7 linked regions of the Homo sapiens genome follow. The protein of the gene in region 2 purifies or fractionates together with the protein of the main gene of each other region. This does not show direct contact. Each region holds a gene or a part of one and is shown on either strand. Other genes may lie near its edges. The genes, in order: METTL13, EFNA2, JAG2, MYO19, GPR107, PCSK6 and OAF.

What was found.
Region 1: the proteins of EFNA2 (region 2) and METTL13 purify together in Homo sapiens (affinity purification with mass spectrometry; one large-scale study listed by BioGRID and IntAct). This does not show direct contact.
Region 3: the proteins of EFNA2 (region 2) and JAG2 purify together in Homo sapiens (affinity purification with mass spectrometry; one large-scale study listed by BioGRID and IntAct). This does not show direct contact.
Region 4: the proteins of EFNA2 (region 2) and MYO19 purify together in Homo sapiens (affinity purification with mass spectrometry; one large-scale study listed by BioGRID and IntAct). This does not show direct contact.
Region 5: the proteins of EFNA2 (region 2) and GPR107 purify together in Homo sapiens (affinity purification with mass spectrometry; one large-scale study listed by BioGRID and IntAct). This does not show direct contact.
Region 6: the proteins of EFNA2 (region 2) and PCSK6 purify together in Homo sapiens (affinity purification with mass spectrometry; one large-scale study listed by BioGRID and IntAct). This does not show direct contact.
Region 7: the proteins of EFNA2 (region 2) and OAF purify together in Homo sapiens (affinity purification with mass spectrometry; one large-scale study listed by BioGRID and IntAct). This does not show direct contact.

Annotation. Positions count from the first base shown.
Region 1 is NC_000001.11:171,788,160-171,791,659, forward strand, and holds part of METTL13 (eEF1A lysine and N-terminal methyltransferase), read left to right. Parts: intron 1-2,292; coding exon 2,293-2,457; intron 2,458-3,500. UniProt on the Homo sapiens protein: Dual methyltransferase that catalyzes methylation of elongation factor 1-alpha (EEF1A1 and EEF1A2) at two different positions, and is therefore involved in the regulation of mRNA translation.
Region 2 is NC_000019.10:1,284,384-1,288,672, reverse strand, and holds the start of EFNA2 (ephrin-A2 precursor), read right to left. Parts: upstream 2,801-4,289; 5' UTR 2,505-2,800; coding exon 2,365-2,504; intron 1-2,364. UniProt on the Homo sapiens protein: Cell surface GPI-bound ligand for Eph receptors, a family of receptor tyrosine kinases which are crucial for migration, repulsion and adhesion during neuronal, vascular and epithelial development.
Region 3 is NC_000014.9:105,162,277-105,165,776, forward strand, and holds part of JAG2 (protein jagged-2 isoform a precursor), read right to left. Parts: intron 1-3,500. UniProt on the Homo sapiens protein: Putative Notch ligand involved in the mediation of Notch signaling. Involved in limb development.
Region 4 is NC_000017.11:36,496,869-36,500,368, forward strand, and holds part of MYO19 (unconventional myosin-XIX), read right to left. Parts: intron 2,445-3,500; exon of another isoform or gene 2,293-2,444; coding exon 2,207-2,292; exon of another isoform or gene 1,692-2,206; coding exon 1,398-1,691; exon of another isoform or gene 899-1,397; coding exon of another isoform or gene 738-898; intron 1-737. UniProt on the Homo sapiens protein: Actin-based motor molecule with ATPase activity that localizes to the mitochondrion outer membrane. Motor protein that moves towards the plus-end of actin filaments. Required for mitochondrial inheritance during mitosis.
Region 5 is NC_000009.12:130,070,906-130,074,405, reverse strand, and holds part of GPR107 (protein GPR107 isoform 3 precursor), read right to left. Parts: intron 1-3,500. UniProt on the Homo sapiens protein: Has been proposed to act as a receptor for neuronostatin, a peptide derived from the somatostatin/SST precursor.
Region 6 is NC_000015.10:101,486,908-101,490,928, reverse strand, and holds the start of PCSK6 (proprotein convertase subtilisin/kexin type 6 isoform PACE4-AI preproprotein), read left to right. Parts: upstream 1-1,221; 5' UTR 1,222-1,258; coding exon 1,259-1,555; intron 1,556-1,775; exon of another isoform or gene 1,776-4,021. UniProt on the Homo sapiens protein: Serine endoprotease that processes various proproteins by cleavage at paired basic amino acids, recognizing the RXXX[KR]R consensus motif.
Region 7 is NC_000011.10:120,221,032-120,224,531, reverse strand, and holds part of OAF (out at first protein homolog precursor), read right to left. Parts: intron 1-3,500.

The sequences.
Region 1 (3,500 bases), on a different chromosome or scaffold from region 2:
TTAATGTCTTCGGTTTAAAGGCATCTGTTTTGCAGGTGCTCCATATACATCTGTGTATTGTTTCAATAGGCCTCTGTGAGGTGAGCCAGAACTATGGAAGTTGCAGGTGAGCCCTGCCCTCCATAGTGTGACTCACCTGTTTCAGAGGGTTTTGGATTGGCGGGTGACTTAGAGGCCTTCTAGTATACCACTGTTCAGTAAAACTGCCTGTGATGAAGGAGATGTTTAGTTCCTGAGTTTCTAATGTGGTCGCGACTAGCCATATGTAGTGCTGAGCGTTTGGAATGTGGCTAGTGTAACTGAGGAACTGAATTTTAATTTTCTTTAATTCTAATTAATTTACATTTATATTTCAACAGCCATAGGGGGCTAGTGGCTAGTATTGGACAGTGTAGATCTAAACCATCTCTTCTAGGATCCCTTTAAGTGGTCTCCCAGCTGTCACTCAGAAACTCCCCCGATGGGGAATCAATAGTTTGTTTTACCTGTGTTAGTTTGTATTTTAAAAGTGATACTTGTTCATTGAAATCACTTCAAAAGTCAAATATAGACCGCGAAAAGTGAATGCCCCTCACCTCTCCGTCTCCAGTGCATCTTCCCTGTCTGAGGCGCAGAGATTCAAGGATGGAAGCTGAAATGGCTCTCCTGATTCCCAGTTGTTCCCTTTGCCTGACTGGCCTGCCCTCATAGCAAGGCCATCTGGGAGGAGGGTGGAGACAGAGAATTCAGATGCTTGAGGTCATAGACTGGCTCTGAGCCTAGAATCAAGTTACCCAGCGAAATGGTATTTTTCTTTAGGGGTTTTCCCTGGCCAAGAGCACCCAAGATTGTTGGGTTTCTGCCCTATTGTTTGGTCACTGTGGCTGCAGGTTGGTCCAGTTTCATCTCACTAAAATCTCAGTAAAATTGCTTAAAAGAACATTTTGCCCCTTTCAGTTTGGGTTTCAGGTTTTTTCACCATTGTCATGTTCCTTGATTTCTTGGTAGCACTTTGTTCTCATGGAAAGAACGTTCTCCCTCATGGGAGTATTGGTGAGCAAGAAGGAGAGCATATTAAAAAGTGATTTAATATATCTGAAAAGCACCCCGACTCCACTCATCAGCACTTTTTACTGCTGGGGAATGCAGCTGATCCCTATGAAGACACAGCCATCCGTTTAGTATGATACCCTGGAGCAGGGAAGGGAGTGGTGAGAGGGAAAGTGGAGTGGCTTTTTAGGATTTATTTCCTTTTTTGAATACTTGTGATTTCCTTCTTCAGCAAAGGTTGGTAGTGCTACCTGTGTGGCATAGCAGAAAGATGATAGGTGATGGAGACAGGCAGTCCGAGGATCAACTCCTATCTCTACCATCTGCTGATTCCCTATTTACTTAACACTTCAGTGGCTTAGTGTGTTCATGTGCCAAGAATTGGAATGATAAGGTTGTTAGAAGAGCTAAAAAAATAAAAGTTACGGTATAGTAATTGGCACATAGCAGGTGATTAGTAACTTTACCTTTCTTTAAAAGACTTTATGAGTAATCTTTTCTCCTGTTAGTGGCCTTACATTTCTTAGACGGGAGGTACCAGGGCTCCTCAGTTGAGTTTTCCCAGGTTTTTGAGTGTGCATTTGCCATTTCCTTTTCCAGCTTCCTTGTATCCATTGTATATGTTAAATGTTTAATGACTATGTCTTTGTGGGGCGGGGTAGGGGGGGCACATCCTAATTTATAGTGTTTATCAGTTCTCTAGTATAAATACCACCACTGTATTTGTTTGTTTTACGTTGCTTATAAAGGAATACCTGAGACTGGATAATTTGTAAAGAAAAGACTTTTATTTTGGCTTATGGTTCTGCAGACTGTACAAGAAGCATGGTACCAACTTCTGCATTTGGTGAGGCTTCAGGAAGCTTACAATTATCACAGAAGGTGAAGGGAGACCAGGTACATCACATAGCAAGAGAGGGAGCAAAAGAGATGCCAGGCTTTTTTCAACAACAGCTCTAGAGTGAGAACTCACTCAATACCATGGGGAAGGCACCCAGCCATTCATGAGGGATCTGCCCCCGTGACCAGCATGGTGGCTCCGACATTGGGGATCACATTTCAACGTGAGATTTGTAGGGGACAAACATCCAGATGATTTCACTACGGCCAGTTTCAAGCTATCAACATGATGTCAACCAGTTTGCAAAATTTTAACGATTGGGTCTTTTGAGTGTTCAAGCCATCTGGAGCACACTGCTGCCAGTAACCCTTGCTTCCTGAGGACTAGTGTACTAAGCATAGGGCTTCATATCTCTTGTTTAGCCCAGAAGAAGCGGAAAAAGGACAGGAAGAAGCAGCGGCCTGCTGATGCGGAGGACCTCCCTGCAGCCCCGGGGCAGTCCATTGATAAGAGTTACCTGTGTTGTGAACACCACAAAGCCATGATCGCTGGCCTTGCCCTGCTGAGAAACCCAGAGCTACTCCTAGGTGAGAGAGATGCCACTGCCTTCCACAGAAGGGAGCATAAAGATTACAGACCTAAACAATTGGTGTCACTTGCATTGTAGTTGAAGAACAGCAATTACAAGCTGACAATGTATCTTTCTTCATCTCAACCATGTTATAAGTTAATGAGCATTCTAATTAACTGTTGCCTCAAACTCAACCTGTTATATTGAAATTGTATTGAAATATGTTAGAGTCTAAGTGGTATTTTTTCTGTTCATTTCTTTTTAAAATTAAGGTATATCATGTATTCAATGAGATATGTAAAAATACACAGATTTTAATTGTTCAGCTTTTCTGTAATGCATTATTTGAACAAAAGATGCAATTCTATCTTGAATTTCTACTTTCTGAAAAGATTCATATTATAGTTAATGCAGTCATAGCCTTATCGCTAATAGCAGGTTTGGATCTGACTGCATTAGTGAAATTGTTCATGTTTTGTCTGTGATTGTAACCGTTTTCACCTGAAGTCCCTGAATGTGCCTTCTTGGAATACCCTATACTTTTGTCCTATCTTAGTGTTGATGTATGTCACTAGAATCTCAGTTCTTAGATTTAATTCTCAGGGTCTGTCTCCTTCGGGTGACTTTTGTTGTCTTCCTTTGATCCCCCTGTGGTGGCTGTGCTCTGTGCTTAGGAGTAGGAGTTGGGCCTTTGTTTTCCTGTGATTTGTGGAACTTGAATGGCTTACCCTTACTTGGTGAGGGTGTCTGAGAAGACGGTGTGGCCTTTTGAGTCAAGGGCAAGGGACATTGCACCTCTGCTGCCTTGTAATCATGAGCAAGATTGTTTGGCCACTCTTCTTCCCTTTCCTAGAGAGGGTCTAATAATTCTTATAGTGAAGAAGTCTTTTTTTTTGAGACAGGGATTTACTCTTGCCCAGGCTGGAGTGCAGTGGTATGATCGCAGCTTACTGCAGCCTTGACCTCCTTAGGCTCCCACGTCAGCTTACCGTGTAGCTGGTACCACAGGTGTGTGTCACCATGCCCAGTTAATTTTTCTACTTTCTATAGACAGGATTT
Region 2 (4,289 bases):
ATCGCCTGGGCACAGGTGCCAGGCCAATGGGCGGAAGGGGCGGCCGGCGACGCTGCGGCACTGCCCGGGCCTGCAGGCCCCATCGAGCACACGGTCCCCTGGTGCCCACGCTGCTGTCTGCCCCCCATCGCGGCTGTCCCCGTCTCCAGTGCCTTTCTGTATGCCCCTCTCAAAGACTTGGGGTCCCCGCATCCCCCACACACCTGCCCGACCCCATCATCCCTCCCCGGCCAGCCCAGCCTCACACCTTAGGCCTGCCGGCTGACGCCACTCCTCTCCCCAAGCCGATGTCCCCTCCACAGGGTCCCCTTGGATACGGAGGCCCAGCACCACCCCCTGCTGTGCCTGACACCCCCGCCACTCAGGCACAGGTCCCGGGCAGGTGCCCCTGGACACCAAATCTGAGAACTGCAGAGACCCCTGATGTCCGCGACAAAGCCCTGATTCTGGCTGGATCCCGGCTTCCCGGGAAGGTGCTCACCCAGCCCTGGGCCCCACTGCAGGGTGTCGGCTCCGTCCCCAGCAACCCTGGATACCGCAGGCAGGAGAGGAAGGAGGAGGCAGCCTCGGTGCTGCCCAGGTCGGCTCTGCGGACCAGCAAGGCCGTTCCCTCAGGCAGCGGTTTGAGCTGGGCAACCAGGTCAGACCCGGAGCAACAGGAGGTGGCTGGGCCAAGCCAGGCACTGGGGAGGCCACTTCCTTCCCCTGGCCGGGGGTCCGGCCCGCAGCCCACAGCCCTGTGGCAGGTGGGGCAGCAGGACGGCCCTGGTGACCACCTTCCTCCCCCGGTTGCCGGGTCCTCGTGTGTTTGGCGTTTGCTAGAACAAAGGACAGGCCACGCTGGGGACGGGAGATTCCGCAGCTGAAACCAAAAACTTGGGCCGGGGAAGCGCTGCCCGCTGGACTCCCCGCACGGCCAGCGACAGCCTTAATCAAACCCACATGTGACCAGCACAGCGGGCGGCTCGGGGACCCGCTCTGAGGTGGGCCAGCCGTCCCCCAGCGGCCCGGGGTCCCTGCCCTCAGCCCCCAGGGCCCGACCCGAGGCCGTTGACCAGGGTGGGGGGTGGGCCTGTGCGTGTTCCCCACCCCCACGGCGGAACACGGGCCGCCCTTGTCCCCGAGCCCGCCTCAAAGAGACCCCTTCATGCAACTTTCCTCCCGGGGACCGAGGACAGCAGGAGACAGAGGGGACAAGGAGGGGTGGCGGGCTCCAGAGGGCGGCTCGGTCGGCACAGGAAGCGGCTGGAAAACGGAGAGAAAGTGACCAGTAGCAGAAGAGTGGGGGGGGGCCGCCTCAGCCCCCGATGTGCAGCTCCGTGTGCCTTAGGAAGACGGTGACACCCTGAGTGCTGGGGCTGACTCCCTCCCGAGCCCCAGGACCCCCAAAGCCCCGGCTCCCACGGGACCCCCAGGGAAGCTGCAGCCTGCTCCTGTCTTGGAGACCCTGGGATGGTTCAGAGGGTTCTACCCACGTCCAGGCCATGGCCAGGCCCCGGCAAACTTTTTTTGCTCTGACCAACGGGGGCTTCTCCTGTCCCCCACGTTGTGCCTGGCCCGGACCTGGTTCAAAACAAGGGGGCCTGCAGCAGGCGGGTGCGGCATCTCGGCCGGGCGTGGCAGGCAGGGCACTGGGCCACCTGGGTCCTGCCCCCAAGTCCCCCCCTTGCATGACCTTGAGCCAGCTCCTCATCCCCTCTGCACCTCAGTTTCCTGGTCAGCGCCCAGAGGACAAGAGAGGACTCCATCCCACTGCCCCTCCCGGGGCTGACCCCCAGCTCCCCGGCCCCTCAGTCTCCTTTCAAAGCTGGGCCCTTGGCCCCCTGGAGTGAAGCAGATGCTGGGTCCTGAGGGAGGGACACTCCAACTTCCCCAAGTTCATCTGGGGACCTGCGGGCAGGACGAACCCAGAGATCCCTCGAGGGCCACAGTCCCCCACCTCCGGTGCCAAGGTCCCCGGGGATCCCCACCAAATGCGAAACCGAGGGGGCTCCCCAGAGAAGCGGGTGGATCAGGGGTCCCCCCAAGTCCAGGCAGGCAACTCAGGGGCTACCCGGCATCGGAGGGTACCAGAGGGGTTCCCCAAACTCCAGGAGACGTCGGCGCTCTGGGGGATGTGGGGCGCGAGTCCCCACAGTCCGTAGGGCAATGGGGCGCCCCGGGGAAGGCAGGCGCGAAAAGGGCGAGTCCCCCAAACTCCGGGGGGCCGGAGCTCCCTGGGGGGCTCCCGCGGGAACCGGGCGCCCGCATCCCGGCGGCGGCGCGCGCGTGGGGGGCGCCCGGAGCTCCGGGGGCGCGAGGCCGGGCGCGGCTTGGGGGGCGTTGGGGGGTCCCCGGGCGCCCCCCGCGCGCGGCCGCGCTCACCTGGGGTTGCTGCGGTTCCAGTAGACGGCGTAGCGGTCCGAGTTGGCGCGGGCGGCGTCCTCGGCGCGCGCGAAGGGCGGCGGCGGCAGCGGTAACAGCAGGAGCAGCAGCGGGAGCAGCGGGCGCTGCGCGGGCGCCATGGCCCCGGTCCGGCCGCCGCGCTCGCTCTCCCGGCCGCCGCCTGCCAGCCTTCTCCGCCTCCTCCGCCGCCGCCGCCGCCGCCGAGCGGGCGGGCGGAGGGCGGGCGGGAGGAGGGCGCGGCGGCGCTTGGAGATCCCGGGCCGCCCCCGCCTCCGCGCGCGCGACCTCGGGCGCCGAGAAGTCAGGCGGCGGCGGGGCGGGGCGCCGGGGTCGCCCCGGGCGCAGGACCCGGCCGCGCGGACTGTCGGAGCGCGGGCCGCCGCCGCCGCACCCGCCGGGGAGGGGCCCGGGCTCCGGCCTTTGTCCCGCCCGAGCGTCGGGAGGGCCGCGGGCGCCCCCTCCCGCCGTGCCCCGGCCGCGCGGGGACTGGGCGGGGGTCTCCAGCCTGCGCCCGCCCCCTGCCCCGGCCCACCCCGTCTCAGGCTCGTCCCCCGGGGCCTGCCCCCAGCGACCCCGATTCTGCGCGCCCCCCGCCGGCATCCGCGTGGCCCGGCCTGGGGTCTCCGAGGGGCGGGGGCGCACCCTGCCTCCCGCGCCCCCACGCGCTCCACCCGGCCCGGCCCTGGGTCCCGGGCCTCTCACCTGCCCGGTTCCAGCGCTATCCGCAGCCTCACCAACCCCGACGCACGCGTCCCAAATCGGGCTCGGCCAACTCCAGTCTCCCTGCGGGGGCCGGGGCAGAGTTTCAGAGGGGCGCTGGCCAAAGTCCAAAGCTGCTCGGGCTGCGACCTCCCTGGGGCCCTCCTGGGAGTCGCCTCTCCGGACCCACGCTGTTCCCTGGGGATGGAGTAAGTCCCTACACCTCAGCCCTAAGGGTGCCGGGAGCATAGTAGGTGGACCGATGTGGAGTGTGAGCAGCTGGGGATGGGATCCAAGAAGCCCAGAGTGAAGCCCCGGCCGACAGCAAATCAGTCTCCACGCACGAATCCTGCAGGCAGGGGAGGGCCGCTGCCCGGGGGCACAGCTTGTGCAAAGACCCGGGGTCTGATCTGTTCAGGGAACGCCGAGTGATTTCTCCTCCTGGTAGGCTGACACAGGTGGGGAACTGGGGGCCTGGCCTCTGCTTTGTCTTTTTTCCAATCTATAGAGACAGTGTCTGGCCATGTTGGCCACGCTGGTCTTGAACTCCTGGGCTCAGGCGATCTTCCCACCTGGGCTTCCCAAAGTGCTAGGATTACAGGCGTGAGCCACTGCACCTGGCCTGCCCTCTGTTTTTGCCCTTATTCATGCCACAGCCTCCCTCACCAGACTCTGAGCTTGTGGAGGGTAGGCTGTCATCAAACGCTGGCTGGACTTTGCTGGCGATGCCCAGATCGTGTTGTACGTCTCTGAATTAGTGTCATTCACCAGGCCCAGTGCAGGAGAGGGAACTGCAGGGCAAGCACCAACAGCCCTTGGACCCGAAGGTCCCTGTGTGAGGCATTACCCAAACTCCTGGCAGGGACCGTGAACCCAGAGATGGGCAAGCTAACCTGTGCCCCAGCAAGGTGGGGTGGGGACCGGACCCACCACCGTCCCACAGCTCTGAGACGTGGTGGGCTCTGTCCTGTGTCTCCTGCGTGCCCTCCTCCCCCGATTCCCCAGCGGGCCACGCGGGCCACACCACCTGACCTTTGTTCAGGCTGGGTCCTGCTGGGAAGTCCTTCCACTTTTTCTTCCTGTTAAAATCTTGCTCTTCCAGAAAGGTCTGTCCCACCCAGTGCTCTAGCGTCCCTGCCAGGACAAGGTTCTCAGTTCTCTCTCCTCCAGGGAGCTCAGCCCGTCTGTTCTGAGCTCCAGGTCTC
Region 3 (3,500 bases), on a different chromosome or scaffold from region 2:
CTGACCCACCCCCACCGCACAAGCAGACCCGCAGCCCAACTTCATCTCCCACCATCTGATTGCCTCCTCCCCAGCCCGAACCCTCAAGGCTAAGTCTAAACCCCTCCTCCTGTCCCCAGGCAGGGGCAACAGCAGTGGCACAAGCCAGAGGACAGGCAGACAAGACAATAGATGTTCCACCCCAGGCCAGGGCACCTCAAAGCCCAGGGTACCCCAGGTCCAGGGCACCCCAAAGCCCAGAGTATCCCACAGCCCAGGGCACTGCATGGCCCAGCATACTCCAAGACCCAGGGCACCCCAGTTCCAGGGCACCCCAAAGCCCAGGGTACCCCAGAGCCCCAAAGCACTGCATGGCCCAGCACACCCCAAGGTCCAGGGCACCTTAAAGCCCAGGACACCTCAGGTCCAAGGCACCCAAAGTACAGAGTACCCTCCTGCCCAGGGCACCCTAGATCCAGTACACCCCACAGCCTTGTGCACCCCATGGCCCAGTGTACCCACAGTCCAGGGCACCCCAAAGCTCAGGGCACTCCAGGTCCAGGGCACCCCCAGCCCAGGGCACTGCATGGCCCAGCACACCTCATGGCCCAGGGTACTCCAAATGCCAAGCACCCTAAGTCCACGGCACCCCACTGCCCACTGTACCCCAATCTACAGCATCCCAAAACTCAGGCAACCCAAGTCTAGGGCCCTGCACGGTCAAGGCCAACACAGCCTCCCTGCTGCCCCGCTAACGGCCCCCCCAGGTCCAGGGCCCTGCACGGTCCAGGCCAACACAACACAGCCTCCTAGACCTGCTGCCCCACCAACGCCCCGACTTGGTTTCTTCTCCTCGGCCTCCCGCATCAGCCTCCCGCCCCCTACGGAGCACAGCGCTTGGTGCAGGCGCCAGGAGCTCCAAGCACAGATACATTTCCTGAAACCTGAGCTTCTGAGAGGCCCAGGCCTCTGCCACCATTGTCACCCGAGGCAGGGAAGAAGGGGTGGGGGCAAACACCATCCCCAGGGCTCTGGGCCCCAGGGCCGCAGCAGGAGGAGCAGACCAAAGCCCATCCCACGCAGGAACACACACACCCATGCTCCACACCAGAGACCAGCCAGGGCCTTGCCTGGGTGTACCCCCACTCCCCAGCACACCCCCTCTAGGTCCCAGGTCCCCCACCGTGAAGACGGTGGCAGCCAGGGCCGGCTAGCACCTGCCACAAAGCCCAGGGTACAACTGATGCCAGCCACACCCTGCTCAGGCCTGGGATGTGGGGATAGGAATCCCGCTCAGGCCTGTGGTCTGGGGACAGGGACTCCGCTCAGGCCTGTGGTCTGGGGACAGGGCCTCCGCTCAGGCCTGTGGTCTTGAGGACAGGGACTCCGCTCAGGCCTGTGGTCTGGGGACAGTGACCTCACTCAGATCTGGGGTCTGGGGACAGGGACCCTGCTTAGGCCTCAGGTCTGCAGACAGGGACCCTGCTCAGTCCTGGGACCTGGGGACAGGGACCCAGCTCAGGCCTGGGGCCTGAGGATAGGGGCCCCACTCAGGCCTGGGGTCTAGGGACAGGGACTCCAATCAGGCCTAGGGTCTGGGGACAGGGACCCCGCTCAGGCCTGGGGTCTGGGGATAGCGACTGTGGCTGGGGCCTGGGATTGCAGATCCTTGTCTTCCTGCCCCCACTCCACCACCAGCAGCAGCTCAGGCCGAAGCCTGGCTCCACAAGCACCCCTTCACTGGCCTAGCTTGCTCCCCTCATAAAGACACCATGGAGCAGCCCAGGAGGGCCCCTGAGAGCAGCAGTCCCCTCCCACCCAGGCCTGCCGCCTGCTCCCCAACCCGCCCCTCCACCTCCCAGCCTTCCTATCGTGCTGCGGCTTTGACCCTTCAGCCCACCCTCAGGGACCAGCGACAAACCCCCAGCCCACTCTCCAATCCTCCCTGGCCAAGGGCAGTCCTCCCTGGCTCCAATGGTCCCCGTGTTGCCTGGGCACTGAATGCCCCACCCTGCCCCCATACCAAAGCTTTGAACCAGACCCCCAATGTACAAGGCGGACATGCCCTGAGTTCTCCCCAGGGCTCTGGGCCCCAGGGCCATGGCAGGAGGAACAGACCGATGCCCACCCAACACAGGAACCCAGATGCCCACATTCCATACCAGACCAGCCAGCTCTCCTGGTCCCTACTGGGAAGGTGTGGGAAGGAGGGGGGTGGTCCCCAGTGTGCAGACAGGATCCCCTGAAGGTAGGGTGGGGAGGCCAGGGCCCTGTCATCCCCAGCCCAAGCTCAGAAAAAACAGGAAGCAGAGTGGTGCTGAACCTCACACCTGCCACGAGCAGCTTAGGTAGCTCCAGGCACAGACCTCAGCCTGGCCCACCTTGAGCCCTAGGGCGGCTGGATGCAGGGGGTGGGCTCTGTAAAAACCTTCCTCCCTAGGGGGCAAAGGAGAGGGTAGGGAAGGCTGGGAAGGGGAGGAACTGGACAGGTCTGGGAGCCGGGCTGGGGGCACAAGCAGAGCCCGAGCTGGGAGTCCAGCAGCCCCATCTGACTTCGTGAGACCTGCAATGAAAAAGCGGCAGTGTGCCCCTTTCACAGGTGAGAAAAGCTCAGCCCTTCTGATGGCCCAGGACCTCAGGCCTCCTGAGCTGATAGACGCAGGGTCAGCCCCAGGCCCACCTCCTGTATCTACAGGGCCTTCACCCATCCCGTTCTCCTCATAAGCCCAGATCTGTCACGGGGACCATGCTCCAGCCACACCACCCCGCACAGCTGCCCTGGAGCCCAGCACACACATGCCAAGACAGAACAAGAAAGACCCTCGCTGGCAGGCAGGCTCCTGGGCTCCTGGCTCCAGAGATGGGCCAGCCAGGCAGGCACGACTTCCAGCTGCACCTCTGAGGGTGGGGCCCTGGCTGCCCAGGTCACGGCCAACTGCCACCACCCTGCTCCTCCCTCAGCCAGCAGGTGTCCCCTGGGCCTGCCACCTACCAGGCCCCAGAGCAAAGCTCCCTGCTGCCCCCAGCATGACACTACTCCTCCCCAAACCTCCATCACCACCTGCCATGCCTACAGAGCACCCGGGGTGCGTGCACACACGCAGCTGGGAGAATGTGGCCTCACCCTGCCAGCTACAAGCCAGGCACCAGAACCAACCCAGGCTGACACCGGCCTCCTGGGGACGTCTGGGGGTGGAGCCAGGAGAGGAGGGGCAGCCAGGCAGCCTGCTGGCATGTGGTCCACCACCTCTCCACATTCAAGACCCTGGGCCCACCCACTGAGGGAAGCTGAGCCCGAGACCAGCACAGATCCATGACTAATAGCACACAGACCCCGGCCACAAGAAGCCAGGCCAGGGGGCAGAGGGCCACCCAGCCAGGCCTGGGTCAACAGCAGAGACCACAAGGTGGGAGAGTCACTCAGGGGGCAGGGGGTGGAGGGAGCGAATGCAGAGCCCAGACTCCCCCACTCCTCTTCCACAAGGCCCTCTCATTCCCTTTACTCCAAGGAGCCCAAAAGC
Region 4 (3,500 bases), on a different chromosome or scaffold from region 2:
TGGGGCAGAACCAGGATCCAGACCCTGGGGTTCTACCTCCCAGTGCAACATACTTTCACCTTTCCTCGGCCACTTTAATTCTATGAGGCCTGGCTTACTGGGGTGACTCACAAAGCCCTGAGTGACAATGACTTCCTGAGTGTGCTGGCTGACTTTTCCCTGGATGCTTATATAAAAACAGCTGGGCACGGTGGCTCACACCTGTAATCCCAGCACTTTGGGAGGGCAAGGCAGGCAGACCACTTGAGGTCAGGAGTTTGAGACCAGCCTGGCCAATATGGCGAAACCCCGTCTCTATTAAAAATACAAAAAAAAAAATATAGCCAGGCATGGTGGCACATGCCCTGTAGTCCCAGCTATTCGGGAGGCTGAGGCAGGAGAATCGCTTAAACCCACTGCATTCCATCCTGGGCGACAGAGTGAGACTCCGTCTCAAAAAATTAAATAACATGAAAAAAAAAAAAAACCCACAGAGAACTTGGACCACTGACCCTGCTTGTCATTTCGTCAGCCAGAAAAGGAAAAAACCAAGCAATACAATTTGGGGAAAACATGGTGCCAAATCCAGTGCCATTTGAGGTAACAAACTCCTCACAACCCAAGTTGTGATGTGGGACTAATTAGATTATTTGCTCTCAAGTCTTGGGTAGTTTCTTTTTTGCTATGTCTCGTGAATTTTTCCTCTTTTCTGTAATTGACCTATTATTACCCTAAACCAAACTTTTTTTTTTTTTTAGATGGACTCTCGTCCTGTCACCCAGGCTGGAGTGCAGCGGCGCAATCTCGGCTCACTGCAACCTCTCCCTCCCAGATTCAAGCAATTCTCATGCCTCAGCCTCCCGAGCAGCTGGGACTACAGGCGCCTGCCACTACGCCCAACCAATTTTTGTATTTTTAGTAGAGATGGGGTTTCGCCATGTTGGCCAGGCTGGTCTTGAACTCCTGACCTCAGGTGATACACCCGCCTCGACTTCCCAAAGTACTGGGATTATAGGCGTGAGCCACCGCTCCAGGCCCTAAGCTAAACTTTCATCACCTCCTGCTCCTGACTCATCTAAAGCCTTGGTTCTCACAGTGTGGTTCATGGAGCATCAGAATCAGCTGGGAGCTTGCTAGAAACGCAGCATTGCATTTGGAAATGGGACTAGAAGATTTAGAGATGCTGAAATAATTAGAAGCAGTTTTTAAAAAGATAAAGGGCTCTGGAAGATTCCCAGTTATAACAAAATAAATAATCCAAACCTGCAGCTGATTGGGACATGCAGCCCTCTGGTTTACCCAGTAGGGTTAGGGATGGATCTTGTCCCAGCCTCAGTCTCATTCCCGCTGTGAACTTGTAGGCTTTGCTCCTGCTGTTCTCAGGAACAAAGCTGTCATGGCCATCACACACAACGTACCTGAGGCAGCGCTCGGATGGACGTGACACCAGCCTGGTCTTGTGCTGTCTGGACAGTGTAGCTACTGGGGCTGCCCCTGGGGAGCTGGAGGCAAGCCCAGACCACTAATTTCCTCTGAAAGCTGCCTACACCCATAGCCGTATTGGCCAGGACCAGTCCCAGGGGCCAGAGGCGGATTATTGCCTCCAGGAGCCTGGTCTGCAGCGGCGAGGTGCTCAGGGAACAGGGAGCTTGAGAGAAGTGTTTTTCTTCCACACCATCCAGCTCTTTAGCAGCAAGGCAGGCCATTCTGATCTTAAAAAGCAAATATCCCTTTATAGCTTTAGATTTATCTAGCCCTCTTAGCAGAAAATGGAAATCAAAACTATCTTTAACAAATCATCTTAACAAGGTGAACTGAAGGCACCTGGTTGCAAACAGCTGGCTGCCCTGAACCAAACTGGTTCCATATGCCACAAGTCTATACACCCCAGGCAACTGTGCTTAGGCCTTACATATGCTACTTGAAAACAAGATAAGAGTCCATCAAGATATAACTGATATGCCATAAAACCCAGTCTTCTAAAGTGTACATCCCAGAGTTTGGTATATTCCCAGAGTTGCTTATACCACTCTTCACCTACATAACCACCCTGCAGGGTAGGTGTTACTGTGCCCACTGCATACATGAGGAATATGAGGCTCAGAGAGGCTAAACAACCTGCCCAAGGCCACCTGCATTGCAGTGGCAGAGCCAGCATTCCCACTCGGGTCCATCTGGTCCCCAAAATTGATCCACTGCCCACCCCGACTTCTTGGGTCTTACTTACTCTCCACTTCTGCCATGCACGCTTGATGACTGTGGCAGCTGCATGCAGCCTCTGGATGTGTTTCCGAGTTAACCAGGAACGAATGGCTAAGAGGTTTGCCCAGAAACAGGAAAGAGATAATAAAGGGGCCATTAGAGCTGTCAGTGACCTCGCTGCAGCAGCACCACAGTTGCTGTCAAAGTTTCAAATACGTTTTTTTTTTTTCAATAAATTGCTACAAATAAGGTTCTAAAATCAATACATAAGGCAAAATTGGCTTTTAAACATTCCTTACACTGCCCACACACTTGAATACACCTACACAACACAGTGAAGGGGCACTGGGGAGAAGGACTGGCTGAGGGCCCAGCAATCACTTCCCGTCTCAGGCTGGGTCCAGGTCAGCACCCAGGGAATGGGAGGGGTCTGGATTGTCTGTGCCTTTAAAAACTTTTTTTTTTGTTTTGTTTTTAATCCTCAGTTGAATTTGTTCGCTTTATGCATCCCTGATCTCACATCACCATATACCCAAACACTGATACAATTAATAGATGGTGGTAATTTTTATTCCCTTCTCTGCAATTTCAGCATATTCTTTTTCTTTTTGTTTCTTTTTTTTTTTTTTTTTTTTTTTTTTTTTGAGACAGGGTCTTGCCCAGGCTGGAGTGCAGTGGCACGAACAGCTTATTGTAGCCTCCGTAAGGCTGTAGCTTCAATCTCCCAGGCTCAAGCAATCCTCTTGCCTCAGCCTCTGGAGTAACTGGGACTACAGGCATGTGCCACCAGGCACGGTTAATTATGTTTTGTTGTTTTTTTTTTTTTTGAGACAGAGTCTTGCTCTGTCACCCAGGCTGGAGTGTAATGGTGCAATCTCAGCTCACTGCAACCTCTGCCTCCTGGGTTGAGGTGATTCTCCTGCCTCAGCCTCCTGAGTAGCTAGGATTATAGGTGCATACTACCACACTTGGCTAATTTTTGTATTTTTAGTAGAGAAAGGGTTTTGCCATGTTGCCCGGCTGGTATGAAATTCCTGGGCTCAAGTGATCCTCCCACCTCAGCCTCCCAAAATGCTGGGATTACAGGAGCGAACTACTGTGCCCAGCTTCCTTATACAATTTTTTAATGCCTACACACACACAAACACACCTTAAAAGGAGGGCATCGCCCTTAATATGTAGTTTGACATCTAGGTATGAATATCATTTTGGAAGTGGTTCTCCATTAAATTTATAATATTCTTCAAAAACACTTAGCTGCATCATAGGGATGGTCCAGTCCATCATTTGGCCATGATGTCACCACTGTTAGATATTTG
Region 5 (3,500 bases), on a different chromosome or scaffold from region 2:
AATTTGATTCTTGGTGTGAAGGGTAACTTTTTATTTCTAGATTTGGGGTTTCCTGGACATCCCGGGTAGTCTAATGGCAAACACCAAAGGCCTGTGAGGACAGGCTGTGGAGCAGATCTTTGGCAGAAACAGCATAAACTAAATCCCCTCCTCTCCCCCACAGAACTACACCACACTGCACTATCACTAGCAGGATTTTCTTTCCTGCCCACTCTTGCATTCATAGCTTTTTGACAGCCCTAGATTATGGGCTGAGAAGCAGAGGGACACAGTTCCAACTCACCTCCCTGCTCAGGCCTAAGGCTATGGTCCCTGTTTCCCCTCAACATCTGTTAAAAACCCAGGACTCGGCCGGGCGTGGTGGCTCACGCCTGTAATCCCAGCACTTTGGGAGGCCGAGGCAGGAGGATCACTTGGGGTCAGGAGTTCGAGACCAGCCTGGCCAAAATGGGAAACCCTGTCTCTACTAAAAATACAAAAAAATTAGCCGGGCATTGTGGCACATGCCTGTAATCCCAGCTACTTGGGAGGCTGAGGCAGGAGAATCACTTGAACCCGGGAAGCAGAGGTTGCAGTGAGCCGAGATCGTGCCATGGCACTCCAGCCTGGGTGACACAGTGAGACTCTGTCTCAAAAACAACAACAACAAACAAACAAAACAAACAAAAAACCCAGGCCTCTGGGCTTCAAGTTTCTGCAACGTCACAGGGAAGCCCTGGCTTCCCTGTTCTTTCCCCAATGGAGTTTCAGCTCCTTCTTCCCTTTTTTGGGCCCCTGGGAATTTCCCTTATTTTCTTAGGAGCTTGGCTATGTGGTGAAAACATGTTTGCTGGATTTCCACTTCCTGGTGGGCTGGAGTGGCTTGCAGCAAACCAACATTCTCACAGAGAACAATTAGAAAAGCCAGATAAGATAACAGAGGTCATCTCCTGGAATCTACAAGAGTGGGTCAATGGTAAAAGCCAGAAAAGCTAAGGCTCCCAGCCTTTCTTGGAATTCTCTGAGAGAATTAAACCCACGGAAAATGTCTTCAGTATCTATTTTCTCAATTCTCTCAAGGACAGTATATGATGACTACCCTCCTAGAGGCACAGGAGACATTAACTCAACTACATAAATGGATGCCTTAGCACATTAGGGCTTCATTCTCTGGCAGAATCCTCAGTGGAGCAGGACTGCAGAGGGAGAGGATGAGGGAAAATGAACACACAATTTCTGCCACATAAAACAACGTATATGAATCACAGCCATATTCATGTAAAACAAACTGGAATGCAGGGGGAAATCATCTGTGGTGACGGAGGTGAAGACAGTGACCACTCTCAGGAGAAAGGGGCTTTCCTGGGACTTGAGGGAAGGTGAGGCTTAGGGTGCTTCTGGAGGGGCTTGGTAATGGTTCTGCCTCATTTCCTGCGGGCTGCATGAGTGTGTCTACGTTCTGGAAATGCGCTGAGTTGTTTGCTTATAATGAGTAATTTTTAGCCATGTATATTACATTTCAATAAAGTTTTAATTTTAAAAGTATGTCTTTTCTAATTGGTCCAGCATGAAGCTGCTTTGCAGCAGAATGGAAACCTGCTAGGCTTTCATTTATACTTAGGCCACCACAATACAGGTTTTCTTGTTGTTTTGTTTTTTTTTTCCAGAAAATGTTTCGATTGCAACCTGATAGCAGTTCCCCCCCCAACATAAATAGTACATTCCTTTTTTTTAAACCTTTGCATCATCATTTCATTTGATGATACAATGCCATGAAAAACAGGTTTTTGAAGACTATTTTAAACAATAAAAACAGCATCGGCTGGGCACGATGGCTCATGGCAGTAATCCCAGCACTTTGGGAGGCCAAAGCAGGCAGATCACCTGAGGTCAAGAGTTCGAGATCAAGGCCGGGCGCGGTGGCTCACACCTGTAATCCCGGCACTTTGGGAGGCCGAGGCAGGCAGATCACAAGGTCAGGAGATTGAGACCATCCTGGCTAACACGGTGAAACCTCATCTGTACTAAAAACACAAAAAATTAGCTGGGCGAGGTGGCACGCGCCTGTAGTCCCAGCTACTCGGGAGGCTGAGGCAGGAGAATGGCGTGAACCCCAGGGGGCGGAGCCTGCAGTGAGCCGAGATCACGCCACTGCACTCCAGCCTGGGCGACAGCGAGACTCCATCTCAAAAAAAAAAAAAAATTAAATAAATAAAAAAATAAATAAATAGAAAGAGTTCAAGATCAGCCTGGCCAACATGGTGAAACCCCATATCTACTAAATACAAAAATTAGCCAGGTGTGGTGGTGTGTGCCTGTAATCCCAGCTACTTGGTAGGCTGAGGCAGAAGTGCTTGAACCGAGGAGGCAGAGGCTGCAGGGAGCCGGGTTGTACCACTGCACTCCAGTCTGGGAAACAGAGCAAGACTGTCTCAAAAATAATAATAATAAGGCTGGATTACGCCTGTAATCCCAGCACTTTGGGAGGCCGCGGCGGACGGATCACCTGAGGTCAGGAGTTTGAGACCAGCCTGGCCAACATGGTGAAACCCCGTCTCTACTAAAAGTACAAAAATAAGCCAGGCTTGCTGGCAGGCATCTGTTAATCCCAGCTACTTGGGAGGCTGAGGCAGGAGAATCGCCTGAACCTGGGAGGCAGAGGTTGCAGTAAGCGGAGATTGCACCATTGCACTCCAGCCTGGGGGACAAGAGCAAGACTTTATCGCAAAAAACAAAACAAAACAAAAATAGTAATAATAATAATAATGATAATAACAACAGCATCACAACTCCCAGTTTTCAGAGTCTTCCAAGAACTAGGTTATGTGCCAAGGGCTTTACCTATGATTTCTGACCCTCGCTCAGCTCAGTGTGGTTAAGAGAAGCAGCCCCACGGTAGCGATGAAGACACCAGTTCAGAGGAGAAATGACTACCTGAGGCCAAGCAGACTATAGCTAATAAAGCTGGGGCTTCAAACTAGATCTGATATGAGAGCCATTTTCACATTATCATTTCCTAACAAGGGAAAGTAATCATGATACAACATTAAATGTAAAAAGCTATATTCAGTAACATTTGATAGAAAAAAAAAGGGTGAGGGGCCAGGCGAGGTGGCTCTCGCCTATAATCCCAACATTTTGGGAGACTGAGGCAGGCAGACTGCTTGAGCCCAGGAGTTTGAAACCACCCTAGGCAACAGAGAAACCCCATCTCTAGCAAAAAAAAAAAAAAAAATTAGCCAGTTGTGGTGGCATCCTAGCTATTCAGGAGGCTGAAGTGGGACGATTGCTTTAGCCCAGGATGTCGAGGCTGCAGTGGGCTGGGACTGCATCACTGCACTCCAGCCTGCGCCACAGAGTGTGACTCTGTCTCAAAAAAAAAAAAAAAAAAGAAAAAAAAAAAGTTAGGACTGGGCCTGGTGACTCTCATCTATAATCCCAACACTTTGGGAGGCTGAGGTGGGAGGGTCACTTGAGGACAGGAGTTCAAGACCAGCCTGGGCAACACAGAAAGACCCCCA
Region 6 (4,021 bases), on a different chromosome or scaffold from region 2:
TTTTTGTTTTACTTCCTATATTAAGCAGGTTGATGGCTTGCTTTCTGGAAGTGGGCCAGTAGGACCAATGGGTCCTGGGAGGGATGACAGAAGAGATCCAGCAGCGATCCTTACCCTTCATAATTCCTTGATTATGGTGTGAACATTTCCATCCATCTCCAGGGTGCTTCAAATCATTATCCACTGGATACCAGGCTGCTCCAGGAAGCAGGGGTGAGGATGATTCAGCTGACTTTCTACTGCTGGTCCCAGCTCAGTGGGTGCTTTTAAGAGTGTACATCGTCTAGTGAACACCTACCACACGGCAGGCCCTGGGCTCATAAAAACGAACGTTTACGGACAGCTTATTGTACAGCAAAAGCTGACCTCATCCTCAAATCAGCCCGACGGGGTAGATGCCACTGTTCCCCGCATTTTGCAGGTGGGGCGCCTGCCCTCAGCCACCACAGTCATTTGCCCAAGATCGCAGCGAGGCTAAGCGGACGGCCTGGGGGTTCACCTGCACGGCCTGGGGGTTCACCTGCGCGGCCTGGGGGTTCACCTGCACGGCCTGGGGGTTCACCTGCGCGGCCTGGGGGTTCACCTGCGCGGCCTGGGGGTTCACCTGCACGGCCTGCCTCCCAGCATGGGCCGCGGCCTCCGCCATGGGCTCCGTGCGGTGGTTTCTCGGGTACACGCTCGTGAGCCCGGCTGATGCGCCACATGCCTTTGCCCCGCTCAATGTGTCCCTTCAGCCAGGCTTGGTCCCGGGCGACCCACTGTCTTCCCCGCAGCTTCTTCTCCCTGGGACCCCGCACACGGGCGAGCCCTCCGTCTAGGGAGGCGGGCGAGGCCGCCAGGCGTCTGAGGCCCCCGCCAGGTGAGTGCGGCCTTCGGGTGTCCGGCCGGTCTAGGGAACCGGGGACTCACCTGAGACGCCGGGGCCTCCCCGCTCCCAGCAGAACTCGCGGGCCGAGGACGCCTCTGGGGCGGCACCGCGTCCCGAGAGCCCCAGAAGTCGGCGGGGAAGTTCCCCCGGTGGGGGGCGTTTCGGGCCTCCCGGACGGCTCTCGGCCCCGGAGCCCGGTCGCAGGAGCGCGGGCCCGGGGGCGGGAACGCGCCGCGGCCGCCTCCTCCTCCCCGGCTCCCGCCCGCGGCGGTGTTGGCGGCGGCGGTGGCGGCGGCGGCGGCGCTTCCCCGGCGCGGAGCGGCTTTAAAAGGCGGCACTCCACCCCCCGGCGCACTCGCAGCTCGGGCGCCGCGCGAGCCTGTCGCCGCTATGCCTCCGCGCGCGCCGCCTGCGCCCGGGCCCCGGCCGCCGCCCCGGGCCGCCGCCGCCACCGACACCGCCGCGGGCGCGGGGGGCGCGGGGGGCGCGGGGGGCGCCGGCGGGCCCGGGTTCCGGCCGCTCGCGCCGCGTCCCTGGCGCTGGCTGCTGCTGCTGGCGCTGCCTGCCGCCTGCTCCGCGCCCCCGCCGCGCCCCGTCTACACCAACCACTGGGCGGTGCAAGTGCTGGGCGGCCCGGCCGAGGCGGACCGCGTGGCGGCGGCGCACGGGTACCTCAACTTGGGCCAGGTGAGTGCGGCCGGCCCCGCGCGCCCAAAACTTTCCCGGCGGCCTCCGGCGCGCGCGAGGGGGGCGCCTCCGCAGTCCTGTCCGCCCGGCCCCGGCCCCGCGCGCGCGTGGGAAGGCTCCGGGACCGCTTGGGGACGGCGGGCGGCCGGGGCGCCCTGCGGGGGGGGGTGTCGCCCGGGGGGGCGCGCGCGGGACACTCGGCGGGGTGGGGGGGACTGGGGTCCCGCGTGGGCGCCCACGCAGGTCCGGCGCGCCGACCGCAAGTCCCCCGGCAGTGCCGCCCAACCCCGCGCTCGGAAGTGTGGCCTCAGAAGCCGGGGCGGCGCGGACACCTGCCGGGCTCCGGGGGAGTCTGGGCTGCCTCAGGCGTCGCGCGCCGTCCGCCGCTGGGTCCTGGGCGCCCACCCGGCTCTCCCCCGCGGGGGAGCGGCCCCTCTGCCCTCGACGGGCGGCGCGAGCTCCGGACCCGGTGCGCGCGCCAAGGCGGCCGCGGCCGCTGCTTGGGTGACATGAGCGTGGCCCGGCGTCTCGGGGACTCGCGCTCCCTCGGTGTCCGCGGCTCCCGGGGGTAGATGGCCGGGAGCCTGCACCCTGGAGCCCGGCCGCCGTCGGAGAGGCCTTGGGACAGCGCAGGGCCGGGGGTCCTGGGTTTAAAACCTCTCCAGGAGCGGAGGGAGGGCGCTTTGTGTGGGGGCTTCTGCCGCGGTTCTGATGGCCGAGCGGTGTGACCTTTGGCAAGTCGCTCCCCTGACAAGCTCCTTTGCAGTCAGTGGCAATGTCTACACCGCTGGGTTGTCGGAAAGATCTAATGCTGCGTTGCCACAGAGCCTGGACCGGGGCCTGACCCTCACCGGCCCCCACGGGGCCCTCCCAGCCCCGCAGCCCTCGGCTGTCCCCTCTTCTGTCAGTGAGCAAGCAGGCCACGCCCTGGGCACAAAGGCGGCATTACCCTCAAAGGACCTCCCGGCGGGTCCCTTTTTCCTCTCTCAACCAGCTACCGGGCTGAGGGGCGGTGAGTTGGGGTTGATCCATGTTTATGGCTCCTGGAGAGGCCGTTATTTTGAGGTCACACCAGGGGACCTCTCAGTGCAGTTAACAAATCTACAAACTACACACTCAGAGGGTTAAGTGAAGTGACAGGGAAGCACCGACTCATAACTCTAAACCTTAGTGCCAGGCAGTGTTAAATGTAGTTTCATCGTTATCCGTGGCAGAAGCCAGCAAGGTGTGGTGGCGTCCCTGATTGATAGAAATGACATTAGTTCTGCATCCCAAGCCCCACGTTGATGTACTATTAGGTGTGTGGCTGGAGGGGTGGATTCCACCATTCGAATGAAGGAATCTTCACAAGGCAGGTTCGAGTTTACTGAAAGAATGCTAGCACATCTTTGGAGACCTTTTAAATATATGCATATATATATATAAAATGTTACATATATACACATATACACACATACATATACGCACATGTATATCCATATAGATATTTAGTTTTTTTAACCACTCAAGGCCCTCCAAACATCCTGTGATTTCAGATTTTGCCGTCGGGTAGCACTGACTTCGTTTGTCTCTGTAGTTCTTGACTCTCCCTGGCTGATTGTCCAGGCTGAAGAAGGTGTTCCTCATGTTTGCGTAGTGCCCCTGGCTCCTGCCACACTTCGCTGCTGTGCCCAGGTGGCCCAGCAATTTGTCTTCAGCTAAAAGTGACTCTTAAACTACGCGATAAATTACAAAGTGCCTGGGTTTTGGGATTCTAAAATTAAATGAGCAGAATGGAGCTGAAATTGAGCTGTGAGCTCACACTGCAAGAGAGAGGCAGAGAGGCACAGGTAACTCTCCCCGGAAATTTCTATCTGTGGGAATAAAAATGCCTAACCCTTGGCCATGCCGCCCCTTTGAGACAACCTCTGTCAGGCTCACTGAGTTCTTAGTGCAGTCTGCTCTCCTGGTTTTGCGGATGGGAGAGAAGATTCGCCCCGATGCACACTCCGTACCCAGGATATTCTGGGGAGTTAATCGGGGTCTCCCCAGCTCTGTCTAGTGCAGCCAGCATGAATGCCACGCAGCCCGGTCACTCAGGCATGGTGCTGGCAGTGGCACTGCGGTGACATTCACTAACAGAGATTAGCTGGTTGGGGATAGGAGCTGTCTCAGAGGCTTGTGTGTGATTACTCACGGAGGGCCTATTACTCTTTATTCCAAAACGAGCTTTTCTTTCCCCCCTCTAAGTGCACTGCTAATGTGGAAAAGGCCTGGAGCATTTGAGCCTCTACCCACTCAATAAGAACTCTTTGAAAACCTTATTTGCCTTTTTTTCAGCCAGGAGAATTTGTGACTCATAAATAAGATGTAGATATTATTAGCTTTGACTTACAGATGAGTAAATGGGGGTGAAGTAAGGGAAGGAAGCTGTTTGTGTTCACATGGTACGCATATGTCACCTCTGACAGTTCCATCCCTGCTCAT
Region 7 (3,500 bases), on a different chromosome or scaffold from region 2:
CAATACATGCGGCAAGGGACTCACAGCTCCGCCCCGAAGCTGCAATGTATTAGTGAGTCCTCCAGGCTTTCCCCTAATTTCTCTGATGTGTAAAATGGGGATGATCCCAGTTATGTGACAGGGTTGTGGTGAGGACTAAGTAAGTTATCTGAAGATTCTCACATGGGGTCAGCGCTAGCTGGGATTACTCTTGTAGGTGACCAGCAAGCATCGTAGGTGGTCTGCAACAAACGAGTGCATGTCATCTCATAAATGCCCATGTATTTCTGCAGTCCTTTAACTCTACAGAGTTTCTCTTACTTGCCATTATTGTAAATCATCTCTGGAACGATGAGGTATGGAAGTATAGGGGGAGGTTTTCCAGAAAGGGAAACTGAGGCTCAGCTGTTGAGGAAGGTTCCATTAGGTTCCTTATGATCCCAGAGATTTGTGAAGAAGGTGATCAGAGCTCAGCCAACCCCTGCTTCCTCTCAACAGGAAATCCCTTCTTGGTCATGGTGCTGCAATCTCCTTGTCCTGCCAGCCTGGGCTATCTGATCTTCCCCTCACTCAGGTCGGCTGAGGAGAGATGGGAGGCTGCTCTGCCTGTAGCATATTCCATTCTGGGCTCAATTCCTGCCAGGTGAGACTTGATACCAGACTTCCCCTGCTAGAGCTTGAGCCAGGCCATGTCCCTGGCAGGATCCCCCAGGAAGGATCCAAAAACCACTTCCCTGGTATTTTCAGCTCTGACTCTTTGGAGAGAAGCCTATCTGGATATTCACAGCATCTTCTCCAATACCGCAGGTGCAGGAAATATCCGGAAGTCTCAGGGCTGCTCAGGGGTCTCTTTGCTTGGTGACATCACCTGACTACCGTTGGCAAAAGAAGGTATTTGAACTTTCAGACCAGACTAGAGGATGAAAGAAATCTATTTGAGCTTTTTTCCTGCTTCTATATTAATAATGTCATCAATGACAATAACAAAATGCTGTCAAAATGGGAACTGACAGGGGGTGCAGGAAGGGAATGATAATTTCTCACTGAGAGGATTTCCTCTGTATCTCCTATTTGTATAGGAAAAAGAGTTACTGAAATTTGTAACTAGAAGAGAAAAAACATTGTTTCCATGGGTCAAAAGGATGTATGATCCTTTTTAAAATCCTTACAACAGGCGGTAGGAGCTATGATTGTTACCGAGCTTGGATTAGGTAACCTGTTCAACGTCATGGACTAAGAGGAAACATAGCCAGGATCTTAATCCAGACAGTCTGACTTCAAAGCCTGAGCTCTCTTAACCAGAATCCATAATTGCCTCCTGGATCAGCTAGTCTCATCTCCTTGATGCTCAGCTAAAGAAGCTGGAACTCGGGCACACAGAGGTTGTGCGGTCTGCCCTTGATGCCTGAGCTGGCCAGCAGCAGAGGTGGGATTAGGACCCGCTCCCCATCATGCCCATCTGGCGGCAGCCTGCCTTAAGTCAGCACACCTGCCTTCGAATGTGGCGGCTCTGGCTCGTGGTTCCTGCAACTACCAAACAGCATGACACAAATAAGAGAAGAGGAGGCAGGAATACCCTTCTAACCCGCCTGCCTGCCCTGCCAGGACTTCTTTTTTTGTTTTTTGTTTTGTTTTGTTTTTTGAGACAGAGTCTCACTCTGTCACCAGGGTGGAGTGCAATGGCGCGATCTCGGCTCACTGCAACCTCCACCTACCGGGTTCAAGCGATTCTCCTGCCTCAGCCTCCTGAGTAGCTGGGACTACAGGCATGGGCCACCACACCCAGCTAATTTTTGTATTTTTAGTAGAGACAGGGTTTCTCCATGTTGGCCAGGATGGTCTTGATCTCCTAAGCTTGTGATCTGCCTGCCTCGGCCTCCCAAAGTGTTGGGATTACAGGCGTGAGCCACTGCACCCGGCCTCTGCCAGGACTTTTTAAACTACAAATTCTCCGGTCTCTCCTTTGTGTGCATGGTTGTTTTTTTTTTTTTCTTTTGGAGACCGAGTCTTATTCCGTCACCCAGGCTGGAGTGCAGTGGTGCAATCTCGGCTCACTGCAACTTCCGCCTCCCAGGCTCAAGCAATTCTCCGGCCTCAGCCTCTGGAGTAGCTGGGATTACAGGCATGTGCCACCATGCCCGGCTAATTTTTGTATTTTGTAAAGACTGGGTTTCACCAGGTTGCCCAGGCTGGTATCGAACTCCTGACCTCAGGTGATCCGCCTGCCTTGGCCTCCCAAAGTGCTGGGATTACAGGTGTGAGCCACTGCGCCCGGCCCTTTCGTCCTATTTCCCCAGAAAAGCACATTCCACTTGCTGATCCCTGAGAAGGAGTGGGCAGCCCTACTTTCTGGGTCTATTTGGTAACAGGACTCCATCATCCTGACCAGTGTCCCTCCCGCTTTCCACTCCTTGCACCTCAGACTCCCTGGCAAGGTTCTGGGGCCCCCTCTTCTTCCAACCTTCACAGGGAAGGGTGAAAGTCCCCTCAGATGCTAAGCCCAGGCCAGATGGAAGCCTGACTCCCAGCCTTCCTCCTTGCCCAGGAATCTGTTGGGATGACGTACTTCATGTGGCCTAACACCTAAAGCAGATGCTTAGCTGGGGAAGAGCCTACAACAGGGACTGCAGGCAGGCTCCTGAGGCTCAGGACCCAGGATAGGGTCCCCAAGACGGGAGGTTGTTATAAGGCTCCTTCTCCCACAAGCTTCCAGGAATCTCCAGCCTACCTGGAAGAACTGGAGCATACTACATCCAGGGCCAGGATCTGGGCCACGCAGAGGGTGTGGCAAGTACCCTGGGGAAATAGTGTTTGCTAGGGTCCTCGTCTGTAGTTTTAAGTAAGGAGTAGGTAGGCTCTAGGATAGCACAGAATTTAAGAACAAAGGCTCTGGAGCCAGTGTTACCCATGTTCAGATCCTGGCTTTGCCTCTGCTGGCCACATAACCTTGAAGGGATTTACTTAACCTCTCTGTACCATAGTTTCCACATTGGCAAGCTGAATAAAATGATAGTATCTACCTCAAGGGACTGTTGCAGGGAATAAATGAGTGAAAGGTTTCAGAACACAGTGGGCTGAACTTTCAGTTTCTCTCTTGTGGCTGCAATTCCTGGCTCTATGTCTGCCTTGCTCCACCTGAAATCTACTCCACTCCTGAAGACCCAGGAGTTGAGATTGTTCTCTTCTAGATGTACCTATGGCCTAGACAGGTCAGGTGACTCCTCTGGGGCTTGCAAGTAATCAGCCAATCAGTGGGAGAGCACTGATTAGCAGGACATGGGGCAGGGCCTTCACAAACACCTGGGCAGGGGAGTGGCCTTGGCCAAGACACAGATTCCTGTTTTCCAGGGGATGGTGGAGGAGGCTGACTTCTGACAACTCAAGTCAGCAAACAATAGGCCTAGGATTGAGGTTTACTCCAAGTGCAATGGAGGTAAAGGGTGGATGAGGGAGTGCTCGTTGTCCCCTTAAGGTTGGGGCTGGGGGTGGCATGAGGGAGGGAAGACTTCGCACAGTGAGGG